2 separate regions of the Homo sapiens genome follow, and region 1 is linked to region 2. The links come from fine-mapping of genetic effects on gene expression. Tissue or cell type: whole blood. Region 2 holds a variant in brackets; the other region holds the start of a gene. All regions are shown on one strand. Distances are from middle to middle.

What was found. PIP is the estimated chance that this variant, and not a neighbour inherited with it, causes the effect.
Region 1: it holds the start of TM6SF1, and the variant in region 2 is fine-mapped to the expression of TM6SF1 in whole blood (INTERVAL, PIP above 0.99).

Annotation. Positions count from the first base shown.
Region 1 is chr15:83,104,000-83,111,999 of GRCh38, reverse strand. It overlaps TM6SF1 (transmembrane 6 superfamily member 1), which reads right to left and starts at 4,355. Exons shown (of 10, transcript NM_023003.5): 1 at 4,228-4,355. The coding sequence starts at 4,319. RefSeq lists silencers at 4,298-4,417, 4,448-4,727.
Region 2 is chr15:82,381,510-82,389,772 of GRCh38, reverse strand. It overlaps the pseudogene UBE2Q2P2. Among named protein-coding and RNA genes, the nearest start is that of GOLGA6L10, 36 kb to the right of the region's middle. The variant G/TTG (reference allele first, on the strand shown) is at 3,121.

The DNA.
Region 1 (8,000 bases), 720 kb before region 2:
CTGTTGCTAACTGTGTCACCCTAGGAAAGTCACATCATTGCATCTATCTGTTTATTAATTAATTCAAAAACATAGCAAGCAAAAAAATGTATTCTGCACCCCTATGTGGTAGCCATTGTTGCAGGCCCTAGGAGACTGGATAAATAAGAGAAGTCCCTGCCTACATGGAGGAACCTATCTCAATGGACTCTGAGCTCTACCCACTAGGAGTTCTCCTGCAGTCCAACAGCAATACTCTCCCTCTCACACCTCCAGCACTGACAGGGCTTCCAATTCTAGACAAAATACTACCTGGCCCACTCCAATGGCCTGCTACACCAGGACCTCTTCAGATTGGAGCAGCTACAAGCACCACTCCTCAACTGAGACCCCTCCACACCACCACAGCCCAACATCGGGACCTTTGGATAACTATCACCGTCCCCTAGGAGAGAGAAAGATAAGAATAGAAGGAGGGAGGGAAGGGGGGAACAAATAGACGATGAGTGGATGGATAGATGGATGGATGATGGGTGAATGGTTGGATGGATGATGGATGAAAGGATGGATAGATGATGGATGAATGGATAGATGATGGATGAATGGATGGATGGATGATGGGTGAATGGGTGGATGATGGGTGAATAGATGGATGGATGATGGATGAATTGATGGATGATGGAGGATGATGGATAAATGGATGGATGGATGATGGATGAATTGATGGATGATGGAGGATGATGGATAAATGGATGGATAGATGATGATGAGTGGATGGATGGAGTATGGGTGAATGTATGGAGGATGGATGGATAAATGATAGATGGATCAATTCTATGATAAGAATGAGGCCGGGCGCAGTGGCTCACACCTGTAATCCAAGCACTTTGGGAGGTCGAGGCGGGTGGATCACCCGAGGTCAGGAGTTGGAGACCAGCCTGGCCAACATGGTGAAACCCCGTCTCTACTAAAAATACAAAAAATTAGCCAGGCGAGGTGGCGGATGCCTGTAATCCCCGCTACTTGGGAGGCTGAGGCAGTAGAATTGCTTGAACCTGGGGGTTGGAGGCTGCAGTGAGCCAAGATTGCACCACTGCAGTCCCGCTTGGATGACAGAGCAAGAGTCCGTCTCAAAAAATAATAACAATTAATTACATTTTTTAAAAAAGAATGAGGGTGGCTGTTTCAATGTCCAGGTGAGAAACTGAAAAATAGGAGGTTTCTGGTGATTGCACTTCAGTGGTTGCTCCAGGCTCCTCCTGTGGGGATGAGCTGAAGAAGGAGGAAGCCAGTGTGGGTCAAGAGTATGATGCTGGGCTGAAGAATCCCATGAGGGAAGAGGTGGGTGTGCTGGGTCAGCTGACAGGCATTTTAATGGTGAACAGCCTGAGGCAGGTGGTGGTCAGGTGACAACTCCAGTCTTCACTCCTACCAAGGGCCTGCACTCACTGCCAGCAGGATCGCGTGGTTGGTGCTCTTCTGGAGCAGGACAGAGCAGTGTGAACTGGTTCACAGCGTCCTCTCATGCTCTTAGCTCCAGGAGAGGAGGGAAGAATGAAGGGAAACTAGGGCAGCAGATTGTCTCTGACTCTTGGCACTGTCCCCAGAGACCCTCCTACAACAGCCAAGTGCAGGACCTGCTCACCACAGGAAGAAACAGGTCCTGCAGGGACTCAGGGACAGGTAAGGGCTGCGACTAACCCCAGGATGAGAAAGTTGCTAGTCTTGGGGGGTGGGAAGGGCTGCTGATGCCCTTCTATGAACAGACACCTACTGAGAGGGGACATGCAAGGATGAGTGTGAGCAGTGTGTCTCTCTCAGTGAGAGAGGGAGACAGAACACGCTCAATCCTTTCCTGACCTCTCAATCTAATTTTCTTTTTCTGGTTTTCAGAGTTGCATAAAAGGTTTGGTGGGAAGGAAACTCGATTCAACAAAGTCAAACATACCTGAGTGCCTACGATGCACACGGCGCTGGCCTGGGCAGGACAGTACAGAGGGGTGAGCTATAGCCGGGGCAGGTAAGTTCTTACCACAGGAAAGTAACTCTCGGGAGAAAGGTGCAAACAAGGGACTGAGGGAGCTCAAAGGAGAGAGAGGGAGGGTCTGCAGAAGGTAGAAGTGGCCATAAAGTCCAGGTGCGGCTTCAACAGTCTGCGATAGGAGGAAGGCAGCATCCCTGTCAGGGAGCAGCAGGAGTCCGGGCTAGAGGCTGGAGAGGAGGAGGAATGGTCAAGGAGCAAAGGCAGGCTGGTGCGGCAGGAGCACTAGTGCGTGGGCTGGGACTGGGGGGCCGAGGCCGAGAAACACGCAGCGGGGCTGGGCAGCGAGACTTGCACCGGAGCCTTTGCCACAGTCCAGGTCAGAAAGGGCCAGTGCCAGGGAGAACTGAAAGGAGGGAACAGACACTAGAGCCCCAGGACTTATGGGGAAGCAGACAGTAGGAGGAAGGGAGTGGAGAAAGAAGAGAGGAATCAAAGGCCACGGGGGTTTTAACCTGCAAGAGGACAGGAAGAATGGCTGACACTAATTATTCAAAATGCTGTAGTGCTTGCCAGTGCGCTCCATCATGCACAGCAATACATAGTTCAGTCTGTATTCAGTAAATGCCATCACCATCTTCCCAGTGGCTGAGGCCAAAACCTAGGGCTCATCCTCAAATCCTCTGCTGCCATGCAACCCTCTTCAGTAAGCCCCATCTGTTCACCTTCCAAAATACCTACTACGCCCATCCAATTCCTTCCCCTGCACTGCTCCATTTTCCTGCCCGACAGGCTCCATTCCCAGATCTTCCCATAGCTCAAGTGTTACCTCCTCCTAGAAGCCTTCCCTGGCCACCAGCCCCCTCCCCAGTCACCCTATTTTATTATCTTCATAGCATGTCACTATCGATGTATTAATGTTTGTTGATGTCTATCTCATTACCTGCCTCCACAGCCTCTTCTGGCTTGTTCATAGCTATGTCACCAACACTTGGAACAGTGCCAAACACACAGTAGGCACTCAGTATATCTTCACTGAACTACCCGTAATGCCATTTTTTGGAGCACAGGGTCCCCCATGCACTATATTGACAGGCATGTAATATTCGGTGGCCCAGAGCAGCTGCCTCCAGGGGATGCCTCCAGAGACTGGGCCAGACCAAGGGTAGACACTGCTGGTGCCTGGTGAGCACTCAGTGTGGGTGCTGCCTGTATCAGGCGGCCAGGCAGCTGGAGAGGAGGAAGTTACCACCCTATGTACAGACACTCCACGGCCTGACCAGCTGAAGGGGGTTTGCAGCCTACAGACTGATGCAATTTCCTTAGCACCAACAGCTGAGAGACATAGCAGGTTACTTCCTCCTCCCTCCAGACAGCAACCAACATCAGCAGGAACAGAGGCTGGCGCCTGTCCCAACACCCGGCGACCCTCAGGCCTTCAGCTGCCGGCTGCAGGTTAGTCCGTGATCCCTGCAGTGGAGTGGGAGGCAGGGCTTCGAACCCAAGCCCTGTCCCCCTCCATCAGCCCCACCCATTTCCTTCACATTGAAGTGTTCTGCCTCTGCTGCCTGTCCCCATCCTACCCCAGCGCAGGCACTGGGAAGCACTTCTCCATTCACAACGCCCCTTCACAAAGAGGTCTCGGTGGAACCTTACAATAGGACGCACACAAAGTCCACTTGACCGGAAAACCGAGGCCAGACCACACCGTCAGTGCCAAACACCGTCAGGCCAGACACCGTCAGTGCCAAAGCCAGGCCTAGAACCCACGTCTCTGCCTGTTGGTTCCGGGCTATTTCTGCTAGTCATTCACAACAGTTTCTAAAATTAATAAGAAATGATAAGTATGCGAAAGTCCATACATGGAAACGTTCCCGTGAGATGCAAAAAGAACAAGGCACAAACGAGCTGACACGGCCAGGTTCGTAGTGTCCGTGTTTGTTCCGCTCCCCACCGGCCCCTGGGCCCCTCCAGGGCAGGGGCATGGCCGTATTGACGCCTGTGACCCCGGGCACCTGGCGCGGTGCTGGCACCAACATCCCGAAATGCGCCAGCCTGGGCACCTCAGGGCCCGGCTCCAAGACCCGGCCCGTGCGACCCCTGGGGCGCCCCCCTAGTCTGGCCAGGCGCGGGGAGCCCCTGCGGCCACGAACCTCTGTCCCGCGGCGGACGGTCCCAGCCCCCTCGGAAAAGTTGCGAGGCTCCCGTCGCGGCGAGCCAACTCCCGCCGCCCCTCGGCGCGACCCCCGCCGCGCCGGCTCACTCACTCATGCTGGGCCGCCAGGTGGTTGAAGACATAGGTGACCGGGATGGCCGAGAGGGACAGCACGAAGACCCCGGTGGCCGCAGAGGCACTCATCGCAGCCGCCGCGCCGCTCGCCCTTCACCGCATCCCGCTGGGCGCCCCGCCCCAGCTTCCGGCGGCGCCCGCGCCCCCTTGGCGCTTGCCCTTCGAGGCGCCTCAGCCGCGCCCCCCGCGTGGCGCCCTCAGCGGCGTCCCCTCAGCGGTGTCTCCTCCGCGCGCCCTCCCAGCCCGCAGCCGTCCCCCGCGCCTGGCCCCGTCGCCCCAAGTGCGCAGGGCCGCGGTGCAGTCCCGGGAGGCGTCCTTGCAGTGCTCCTGCCAGGGGCGCCACGGCTCAGCGGCAAGCGCCCGGCGGCGCCGAGGGGCGGCGACACCCCCGCGCAGGGACAGGTGCCCCTGGCGGCGCGCGCTCCGAGGGAGGGCCCGGGGCACGGCCGGGAACCGGTCATCGAAGAGCTGGAGAGGCGCGGGGCTGAGCTGCGGTCCGGGAAAGGTGGAACCAGATCCGAGGGTGTCAGAGGAGGAAGGGCCCGCGGGATCGTCTATGGGGGAGCCCACGGCCCAGAAGTGGGAAAGGACAAAATGCCCCTGAAACCTCGGAACCTCTCCGCTCCAGTAGCCATCGGCGGGCTGCTGCACGGAGCCGGCATCCGGTTTTTAAACCTGGCTCTCCAGTCACCAGCTGTTGACTTTGGTCAAATTACTTAACCTCTCTGTCTTTTCCCTTATCTGGGAAATGGGGATAACACACTTCATAGTGTGACTGTGGGGTTAACTGAGTTCATACCTACGAAGCGCGTTATCCTGTGCTGCTCACTACACCACCTCCTGCGATTCTTTTTTTTTTTTTTTCTTTAATTGAAATGGACATAAATGCTGAGACTCTAAGAGACTAGAGCGCCATTCATTGCTATTCCAGGAAGCATTCCTGGAGGCCAGGTGCCCACCAGCCAGCCTGCATTGGGCCCTGCAGGGTACAAAGACTGGAAGATAAGCCTCTTCCTCTGAATGATAGATGCCTACGGGTATGGAAAATATTGTGTGTCAAGTGTTGTGGCTATCTGAAGGGCAGTGAGTTCCAGGAGAACAGCTCAAGCAACTGAGGGAGGTACCGGCATGTACTTACTGTCTTTACAACTTCCAGGGAATTTAAGAGACCATTTATGTGTTTTTGCTGTTGCCATTTGAGGGGTTTATTTTATTTATTTATTTATTTATTTATTTATTATTTTTATTTTTTTTTTTTTTTGAGACAGAGTCTCGCTCTGTCACCCAGGCTGGAGTGCAGTGGTGCAATCTTGGCTCACTGCAAGCTCCACCTCCCGGGGTTCACGCCATTCTGCCTCAGCCTCCAGAGTAGCTGGGACTACAGGTGCCCGCCACCGCGCCGGGCTAATTTTTTGTATTTTTAGTAGAGACGGGGTTTCACCGTGGTCTTGATCTCCTGACCTCGTGATCCGCCCGCCTCGGCCTCCCAAAGTGCTGGGATTACAGGCGTGAGCCACCGCGCCCAGCCTATTTTTATTTTTATTTTTTTAAGACAGGGTCTCACTCTGCAAACCAGGCTAGAGGCAGTGGAGAGATGAGGGCTCACTGCAGTCCCCACTTTCCCACGCCAAGCCATCCTCCCAGCTTAGCCTCCTTAGCTCCTGGGACTACAGTCTCGCACCACTTCTTTGTAGAGGCAGGGTCTCACTATGTTGCCCAAGCTGGTCTCAAACTCCTGGGCTCAAGTGATCCTCCCTCCTCGGCCTCCCAAAGTGCTGGGATTACAGGTGTGAGCCACCGCACCTAGCCTCTAAAAGACCATTTGGCTCATTTTAGACATGAGGAAAATGAGCTACGAGGAGGTATGGCCTGCTCCAGGGCCACTCCACTTTTCAAATGCCAGTTCTCCTAATCCTTCATCCTAGTTCTTCTTGAAGGCTTCTCCAGCTCTGAGTGCATAACGTTTAAGCCTTGGCCCACACTGTGACATATCCAAAGTTTCTCCAAGAGGTGTCCTCACCTGTCACCTGCACATCACCCTCTTCCACCCCTAACCTTCACCACTCTCCTTAAACTCCTACTTCCTCCCTGACAAGAGACACTTCCTCCTATACCTCTGAGCTCCCAGCCAGGCTCCCAAGCCAGCCCATCCCTTCCATCAACACCCAACCTTGTTGCATCAGTCTCAGAGCTGCTCCCTCAGAGCCCACAAGGGACCCAAGTGACATGGCAAAGTTTCAAGGTATTGTGATATACATATTGGGAATTACATGATTTTTTTGTTGACAACAGTTTCTCTTTTTTTTTTTTTTTTTTTTTTTTTTTTTTTTTTTTTTTTGAGATGGAGTCTCGCTCTGTCACCCAGGCTGGAGTGCAGTGGCGGGATCTCGGCTCACTGCAAGCTCCGCCTCCCGGGTTCACGCCATTCTCCTGCCTCAGCCTCCCAAGTAGCTGGGACTACAGGCGCCCGCCACTACGCCCGGCTAATTTTTTGTATTTTTAGTAGAGACGGGGTTTCACCGTTTTAGCCGGGATGGTCTCGATCTCCTGACCTCGTGATCCGCCCGCCTCGGCCTCCCAAAGTGCTGGGATTACAGGCGTGAGCCACCGCGCCCGGCCAGTTTCTCTCTTAATGCTGAAAATATGAGTGGTCAGAATGCTTGTAGTTGGGAAGAGTTTTTCGCAGGAACCTTCCCTGGCTTTTGGGATAAGTGAACCCCTCTGGCTGCCCTGGATCCTTCCGCTCAACCTAGACACAGGCTCAAGTAGCTTCCAATTTAGAAATCTGCTCCCTGAACCTGAGTGTCCTGGGTTTTTTTTGTTTGTTTGTTTTTTGTTTGTTTGTTTGTTTTTGAGACAAAGTCTCGCTCTTTCACTCAGGCTGGAGTGAAGTGGCACAATCTCAGCTCACTGCAACCTCTGCCCTGCCCCCCGCCGGGTTCAAGCAATTCTGCCTCAGCCTCCCAAGGAACTAGGATTACAGGTGCCCGCCACCATACCCGGCTAATTTTTGTATTTTTAGTATAGATGGGGTTTCATCATGTTGGCCGGGCTGGTCTCAAACTCCTGAACTCAGGTGATCCACCCGCCTCCATCTCCCAAAGTGCTGGGATTACAGGTGTGAACCACCACACCTGGCCCTGAGTGTCCTCTTTTGCCTACCATCTTCTCTTGTTTCTTTCTCAGACACACTTGGTTTTAATGGCCACATCTATGATGCTAGATCCCAAATAACAAGCCCTGACCTGTTATTCCCTTAGCATGGCTGCCTGGGCATCCCGGTGGCACCTCACAATGTCAAAACAGAATTCCTCATTTCCTCAAGACACACTCCTGCTTTATTTTATCTGGTGGCACCACAATTCGCCCACTCACCCAAGCCAGAAGCCTGGGAGCCATCAGTTCCCACCTCTCCGGAATTCCTTTTGTTACACAATTCTCCCAGTGTGACTTTCCAAATATCACTCAAGTCTGTTTGCTCCTCCCCATCCGCACCTCCTCTTAGTTTTGGTCTATACTGCCTCTCATCTAAACATGTCCTAGTCTCCTCCCTCTGATTCCTGCCTCTGACCTCAGTTGACTCAGCTGCTGTAGAAGGCCTTACCTGACCACCCTCCTGAACTTTCGCCTATCAAGCGCCCTGCTTTATTTGATTCAGAGTACTTTTACTATCTAAAATTATCTGGCTTACGCCTTTGTTTACTGGTCTGGATCTCTCCTCCATGATAATGGAAGCTCCTCGAGGTTGGG
Region 2 (8,263 bases):
GACACCAACATGGCACATGTATACATATGTAACAAACCTGAACGTTATGCAAATGTACCCTAGAACTTAAAGTATAATAATAATAATAAAAAGAATGTGTAAGCAAAAACTCAGTTATAAAAAAAAAAAAAAACCCAATTCCCCCTAAGAAAGAAAAAGAGGTGGAGTCCTTTAAAAATTAACTGTCTGTTTTTCTGAGGCTAGTGAACCTTATCTCTCCTCGTCTCCCAGGCATTGTGAAGACCCTGATTCTCTAGCTGTGCAGCTGCAAGGTCACTAGACAGATAAACTCAGTCGAAAAACAGGTTTTTCCTTGAAAAGTAAGAAATAATGTAATGCATGTCTCAACTGAATAACTGTCTTTGTTTCTTGCTTCTGTAATATGCCTCCCCCTGCACAGATCTCCCCCGACCCGATAAAATGTTTAAAAGGTAACCTGACTCTTTGTTCAGGGCTCAGTCCTTTAGATGTTAAATTTGACTGGGCCGGTGCACCTAAATAATAATAATATATATCCTCCTCAACCCTTCAGTCTCTCTGATTCCTAAATTATCCCGCTGCAGGGGGAGAGAGGGAGCAGGGTAGTGGAGTCATACCAAGCAACAAGAAAGACAGGGTAGTGGCCAGGAGTTCGAGACCAGCCTGGTGAACATGATGAAACCTCATCTCTACTAAAAATACAAAAATTAGCTGGGCATGGTGGCAGGTGCCTGTAATCCCAGCTACTCAGGAGGTTGAGGCAGGAGAATCACTTGAACCCAGGAGATGGAGGTTGCAGTGAGCCGAGATTGTGCCATTGTACTCCAGCCTGGGCGACAAGAGCGAGACTTCATTGAAAGAAAGAAAGAGAGAGAGAGAGAAAGAGAGAAAGAAAGAAAGGAAGAAAGACAGGGTAGTACATTTTCCACGAATTTCAATTTTACTCTCTTCCCCCACCACACACACACAAAAAGCATTTGAGGGATGGGAAGAAGAAACTGAGATCACAGGGAAAATAGTAAGAGACATTTAGAAGGACAGGTCTTAGAAACGTACTTTGGGGGGGAGGTCAGAGAACAGTAGCATATAAAAGAACGCTAAGACAGTTCCCAGGTTGAGGCATGGGTGACTAGTTTGATTATTTCATTTTGTCCCACTCACAATGACAAGGACAATTACTGATGGGACACATGATGGGGCTGATAGAGTGCTAGGAGGTGAATACATGAAAATTTAAATACCATCATTTTGAACACCCATGTCACTCCAAGTGAGATTCCCTAACATATATGATATACAGACAGATATATGGGTTTGAAACTCCGGAGATGAATACAAATTTAGGAGTCCCTGGAACACAGGTCATGACTTAAGTAATGGGAGTCAAAGATTACTCAGAGAAAGCACAGAATGAGAAGAGAAGAAAGAAGTAGGACAAGGAAGAAGAGATCGGAGGAGACCAAGGCAGGGTGATAAGATCAAAACAGGAGAAAACAATCTGATAAAAGTCCCATTCGACTATCATGTCCCTTCCCAGAGGACAGGGACATGCCTTTTTTGTCTTTTATACCCAACTATCAACTATCACAGGTCCTGGCACAGAAGCCACACAGTCTTTTTTAATTGTGTTCTACTACTCACAATTTCCTGTATCCACCAGGGGAGAAAAAAGTAAGTATAAACTAGCACAGACATAGATTTTTTTACACTGTATACTAAAGAGGTCAGATTATACACAATATTTTATGCCTTACTTTTTTACTTAATACATCTTAGAAGTTTGCACATGCTTTTATGGAAAGACTGGCTGCATTTTTTTTGGTCTATAACAGAATATTCTATTATAAAACTGTACACTATAATTTTTATTTAACCAACTCTTTGCTGGTGGACATTAAGAACGGAGGAATGTTTCAACAAAGGAACAATCAACATTAACAAAATACTGCAGAGGAGTCAATTTGTGGACTAAGAGGGGAGCCACTGGATTTGGAAACGAGGAGATAAATTTTAGCGCAAAGATGAAGGCAGAATCCAGATTATAATGAGTTCAGTGAAAAAAGGTGAAGACATGTAGCTTATTCTCTCAAGAAACTAGGCTATGATAAACTGGCAGAGGCTGTAAGAGTGGGAAGTGAGTTGTTTTCTCCTTCATGTAAATATATTTATTGTTTTAAACACTAGGCCCAATTTTATATCCTACTTCATTTAACTTTTGAACATGTTTATGTATGTATGTATTTCATGTAATGTTTTAGACACTGAAAAAAACCTCATTTCTGCTATTATAAAACTGTTATCTTTAGATATTCAGAAGCAACTTCCTAAAAGGAGGTAGCAGTAATGGAGCTATGTCTATCAGTCTTTCCCATCAACCCCCTTGCTGGAGATGTAAACATGTGTCCATCAAGCCTTTAATTTTCACCTCTTATCTTCATGGCTCTCCATACAAAACTTAACTCTTTTTTTGTATCTCTATATGTATATTTATATGTATATCTATATCTAGAGAGAGAGAGTCTTGCTATGTTGCCCAGGCTGATCTCAAACTCCTGGGCTCAAGCAATCCTCCCAACTTGGCCTTGAAAGTGCTGGGATTACAGGCGTGAACCACTGTGCCCAGCCTCAGCCTTAACTCTTAAAATATCTTCAAATCGATGTTCTTCTGTTCTAATTTTTAAGAATAGATGTGTTTAAACCAACTACAACTTATTTTGACAAAAATTGGAGTTAAGACTCAAACTTCCTCAAATGGCCAGTTCTCCTAAAACTATTTACAGAATAATCTGTCTTTTCACTACTAAGTTAAAGCACCACCTTTTCCTTACACTAAATTCTCATTTGCATGACTCTGGTTCTAAACTTTCATTGCCTTTATCTGTCTGGCCCAGGGCTAGTCCACAATATTTTATTTAATATCTGGTTGAAAGAGTCTATACTTTATTAATTTTTATTATTTACTCTTCTAAACAAATTTTAGAGTCATTTTGTCAAATGCCAAAAATAAATCTGCTGGAATTTCTACTGAAATTTGTATATATACATATATATACAAAATTTATATATAAATATATATATGAAATATAAAATGTGTATATATATACACCCTTTTTTTTCCTGTGTGTTTTTTTTTTTTTTTTT[G/TTG]AGACAGGGTCTTATTCTGTCACCTAGGCTGGAGTTCAGAGGCAGATCTCGGCTCACTGCAACCTCTGCCTCCCAGGCTCAAGTGATCCTCCCACCTCGGCCTCAGAAGTAGTTGGAACAAGTGTGTGCCACAGACACCCAGCTAATTGTCATCTACCCACTTCAGCTTCCCAAACTGTTCAGATTACAGGTATGAGCCACTGTGCCCAGCAGAAATTACATTTATAAATTAATATGAAGACATGGTGATAACATATTTATAACATGAAATCTGCTCATTCAGGAACATAGAATGCAAATCTTTCATTCCTCTCAGCAAAATTTTGTCATGTCCTTGATAAAAGCCCTGCACATCTAAGTTTATTCCTAGGTATTTAATTTTTGCTGAAATACCTGAAAAAATACTTCATCACTATATGTTCTATGTGATTATAGCTAACATTGGGGAAGGCTATTGATTTTTATATAAAAGAACTTTTAACCAGTAATCTTAAAAATTGTTTTTTTTCAGTTGGTTCCTTTGGATATTTTTAGGTAAACAATCATGTCAACTGAAAATAATGATTGTTATTTTTCTATAAAGACTATGACATCATGGGAAAATACAGTAAATACTTTTTAAAAGAATATAAAAGGGCTGGGCACAGTGGCTCACGCCTGTAATCCCAGCACTTTGGGAGGCCAAGGTGGGCAGATCACGCGGTCAGGAGATCCAGACCATCCTGGCTAACATGGTGAAACCCCATCTCTACTAAAAAATACAAAAAATTAGCCGGGAATGGTGGCGGGCGCCTGTAGTCCCAGCTACTGGGGAGGCTGAGGCAGGAGAATGGTGTGAACCCAGGAGGTGGAGCTTCCAGTGAGCTGAGATCACGCCACTGCATTCCAGCCTGGGCGACAAAGTGAGACTCCGCGTCAAAAAAAAAAAAAAAAAAAGAATATAAACCTATGGAGAATACGACCTCAACTATTTAAACATATATGTAAGGGTTATGTATTTTACCAGCAAAGAAAAAACATATACTGGTAGAAAATGGCCATCATGTCAACTGTCAATAGTGGTTATATTAGGTAAAGAAATTATGGGAGACTTTAATTTTTTTCTTTTTTCTGTACTTTACTAATTTTCTCAACAATGGTTGCTTATGAGTTTTATAATTTAAAAAAAGGTTTTTAAAATTTTTTCAACATGGAAAGTTATATTTCTTTATATACTAAAACAAAAACAAAACTTTCTATTTGAATACCTATGGCAAAACCCTGTATCTACAAAAAATACAAAAAATTAGCTAGGTGGAGTAGTACACACCTGTAGTCCCAGCTACTCTGGAGGCTGAGGTGGGAGGAGCACCTGAGTCCCCAGAGAATGAGGCTCCAGTGAGCCGTGATCATAGCACTGCATTCCAGCCTGGGAGACAGAGAAAGACCCCATCTCAAAAATAAAAAAAAATAAAAAATAAAAAATATCCATAAGGATCTAAAATGCCTATCTGTATGAGATTGTTCTTTGTTCACATTTTTTCAAGCAAATATCACACAATAAATTGAATGCAGGTGCAAATGACATATCAAACATCAACGAAATTTGCAAAAGGTGTAAGATTGTACTACTTTGGGTTTAGAAATTTTCTTTTCATAAAAGCATTTATAACAAAATTTGGTGAGCTTTTAAGGAATATTTTAAGTATTTCTGATTTAATTTTTAGTGATAAATACCAATAGATATAACCTATATACAGAAAAGCTCCTTGGGCCCTCAATATACTTTTAAGAGTGTAAAGGAATCCTGACCCCAAAACTTTGAGAACTGCTGCCTTCCCCTCCACTTTCTTCCTTCCCTAGAATTTCTTCCCTGGAAGAAACATTCCTTTGTCATTCTATGTTAACTTACATAGTTCCATTGAGGCCAGTTTTGCTACCTCCCTCCCATCTTTCCACATTCCTCTCTTGACACAAAACCTGACCAAAGGACTCTACCGGCCCACCTCATTTCCAGTGATTAGCTGTCAGGTGGGCTAAGCCAAGAAAATCTGGGTTTTCCCTGAGACTAGACCTCTCTTTCTGGAAGATACGGAATCACAAGGACAAGGTTGGCCACCTACGGGTAGTGAGAATTCATCTTGCCTAAATGGGAAGAGGTTAGGCAAGTTTCTAGAATGCCAGACTGCTTTCTAGAAAGTCAAAGATAATTATACTTTCTGCCACGACTGTGAAAATGCCCATTTCATTGCACGCTTTCTAACATTTATACCAATCTGATAAATAAAAGCTGGTACCTAGAAGAAAAAAAGGCTGGGTATGGTGGCTTATGCCTGTAATCCCAGTAGTTTAGGAGGCCAAGGTGAGTGGATCACCTGAGGTCAGGAGTTCGAGACAAGCCTGGCCAACATGATGAAACCCCATCTCTAGTAAAAAGACAAAAATTAGCCGGGCATGGTGGCAAGCACCTGTAATCCCAACTACTCGGGAGGCTGAGGCAAGAGAATCACTTGAACCTGGGAGGCAGAGATTGCAGTGAGCCAAGATCATGCCATTGCTCTCCAGCCTGGGCGACAAGGTGAGACTTTGTCTCAAAAAAAAAAAAAAAAAGTTTCCATACAATATAATTTGTTCCATCTCTAAAAACCAATTCAGCAATAACTGAAAGCCACCACTTGGAAGGTTTCAAGGATTTAGCTCTACCTGTTGATGTCCAAAGCATTAGTTAAGGTAGAAAAAAAATACACACACACACACACACACACACTCTCTCTCTCTCTCTCTCTCTCTCTCTCTCTCACCCTTATGTAGTCAGTACCAGGAAACATGAAAGACTAGATGGTATAGTTATCCAACACAAAGCACACAATAACTGAAGGCACTGTAGAGGAATAACTTATGACACAGATCTACAATATTGTTGAGTGAAAATGCAGATTATAATAAAAAATCTGATTTTTTTAAGGGAGAGGGAACACATACAAGCAAAGGAGAAAAGAGATGAGCAGATGACTGAAAGATACAAAATTCTGATAGTGGTACATTCTGAGTGGTAGAATTATTGGTATTATTTTCTAGCTTTGCCTAAAAATTTTCTAAATTTCTTAAAATAAGAACTTTTTGTTATCCATATTATCAAATATCCATCACCCCAGGAAACTTAACCTTGAGCACAAACTCTACAACAAGTTCAATGTTTGTTCAGTTTAATATTTAAGAGACAACCTACTTTGAAAGACATCTAAAATGATGACCAATATTTAAACCTATGCATTAATATTTTTCAATCGTATGCTTTACATTTTGTAATTTTGATAAGGTTAAGCTTTATATCCATCTTGAAAAGGTAAGTTTTCTATTTGTCTTTAAAATATTACCTAGAATATGCCTGTTTTTAAACAGTGAATGATGCTCTAAAATCACAATATAAATTCAGGCAGTGTTCCTTACATGGAATGTTTAAGTACTTCTAACACTGCTCTTTTTCACTTGTTATGAAAACACAGAACAATTATCCAAGCATCTAATTATTCAGGTCCTTTGTTTCTCCTCCATTCTATTAGTTTTATAGTAATTTTAGGGCCTGTGAGGATGAAGTTGTCTGTGACAGCTACCACAAAGGTTACCATAAGTGGACAAATTTCCAACAAGTTTATCATCACTACCATCCCCATCATAAAACTGTCTCTATCAAGGGCAACACAATTCAAGGTTAGCCAAGACAACCTCTTTACCTGTCACTGCTTAAGAAAAGGATTTTTTGGTCTTATTTAGAAATAACTTTCTGTACCTACTTTTCTCCACAAATCCACTGAGACCAGTGTGTGGCTCTATCTCAAGCACCAGCAAGCAAAACGGCCTGCTAGAAGGTTCAGTTTTTGTATCTTTCCAAATGTAGAACACAGCTATCTTCAGGGATTTCATAATTTTTTGAAAATTGATGCACAAACTTCTTGAAAGTTCAGAGATACAGCAGCTGTAATTCTTCTGAAGGCTGGTTATGGGACGCGTTACCTTCACACTTTCCTGTTCAATAACTGTGGGGTGGAGAATCAAGTAAACTGACAGAATTTCCACATAAAATTCGAAGTGCTCTGACAACAAAAGAAACTTAAAATACACACACACACACACACACACACACACACACACACACACACACACACGGTTTTCCCTGCTAATCATTTTACAACTAAACAACCAAGTTGCTAACCCAGAGCCCACAAAAGCAGAGTCAAAGTTCTAACACTTGGTAAAAGAAAAATGCATACATACCCCTGTGAGCTAAAATAAAATGCTTAAGTATTCAAAGACAGACAGCAATTACAGCTACTGAGAACATCATTGTAAGCAAACTGAGGCAGAGAAAACGAACCTGCTGATGAGGATTTGAAACACCTAAGCTGCAGAAACCCACTGGATGGTTTCCTAGGTTCTGAGTTGGCATTATCTTTCAGCACGATCTTCTAGAAGAGATCACATAACACTGTTACAAAGGATCTGGAGAAAGGGACCCTGGCTTCATCACTCTGGCTCTCCAGTCATGCTTTACATTTGGCAGTGACTATCTCCATTCAACTCAATTCCCTAACCCTAAACTAGCTGACATTTATCAAATACTGCCCTTTACCAGGTCTAAGTAAGTTTAACTCCCCCGACTCCCACCAAAAAAAATCAAGATACTAAGGGATATACTATTCACAAAAGGGAAACCTGTCTCCTCTTCATATACCTGTTCCTTTCAAGGAAGGCTATAAAAATGGGGATGAGAGAGGATAACCACTAGGAATTTGACTCTATATTATAAATTCAGATAAATGAAAACAATAATTCCTCTGGACTCAAAGTGATATGGCTCTGATGACTGGAGAAACATCGGGGTCCTTTGTGTCACGTCAGTTAAACGATATGGACACACAGGAGTGGTTTTAAGGAACAGAAAGTTTAATAGGCAAGAAAGAAGAAAGGCTCCCTGCGGTACAGAAAAAGGGGGGCTCCGAACAGAGAAAAAGCCCCGTGTGTGGCAGAACAGTACTCGGTTATATTGGGAGGCTGGAGGAGGTGGTGTCTGATTTGCACAGGGACCAGGGTATTGGTTTGACCAGGCAGGTCATTCATGCAGCCCGAGAAAAACGTGGCCCTCCCACCCTAGCCTTTTAATATG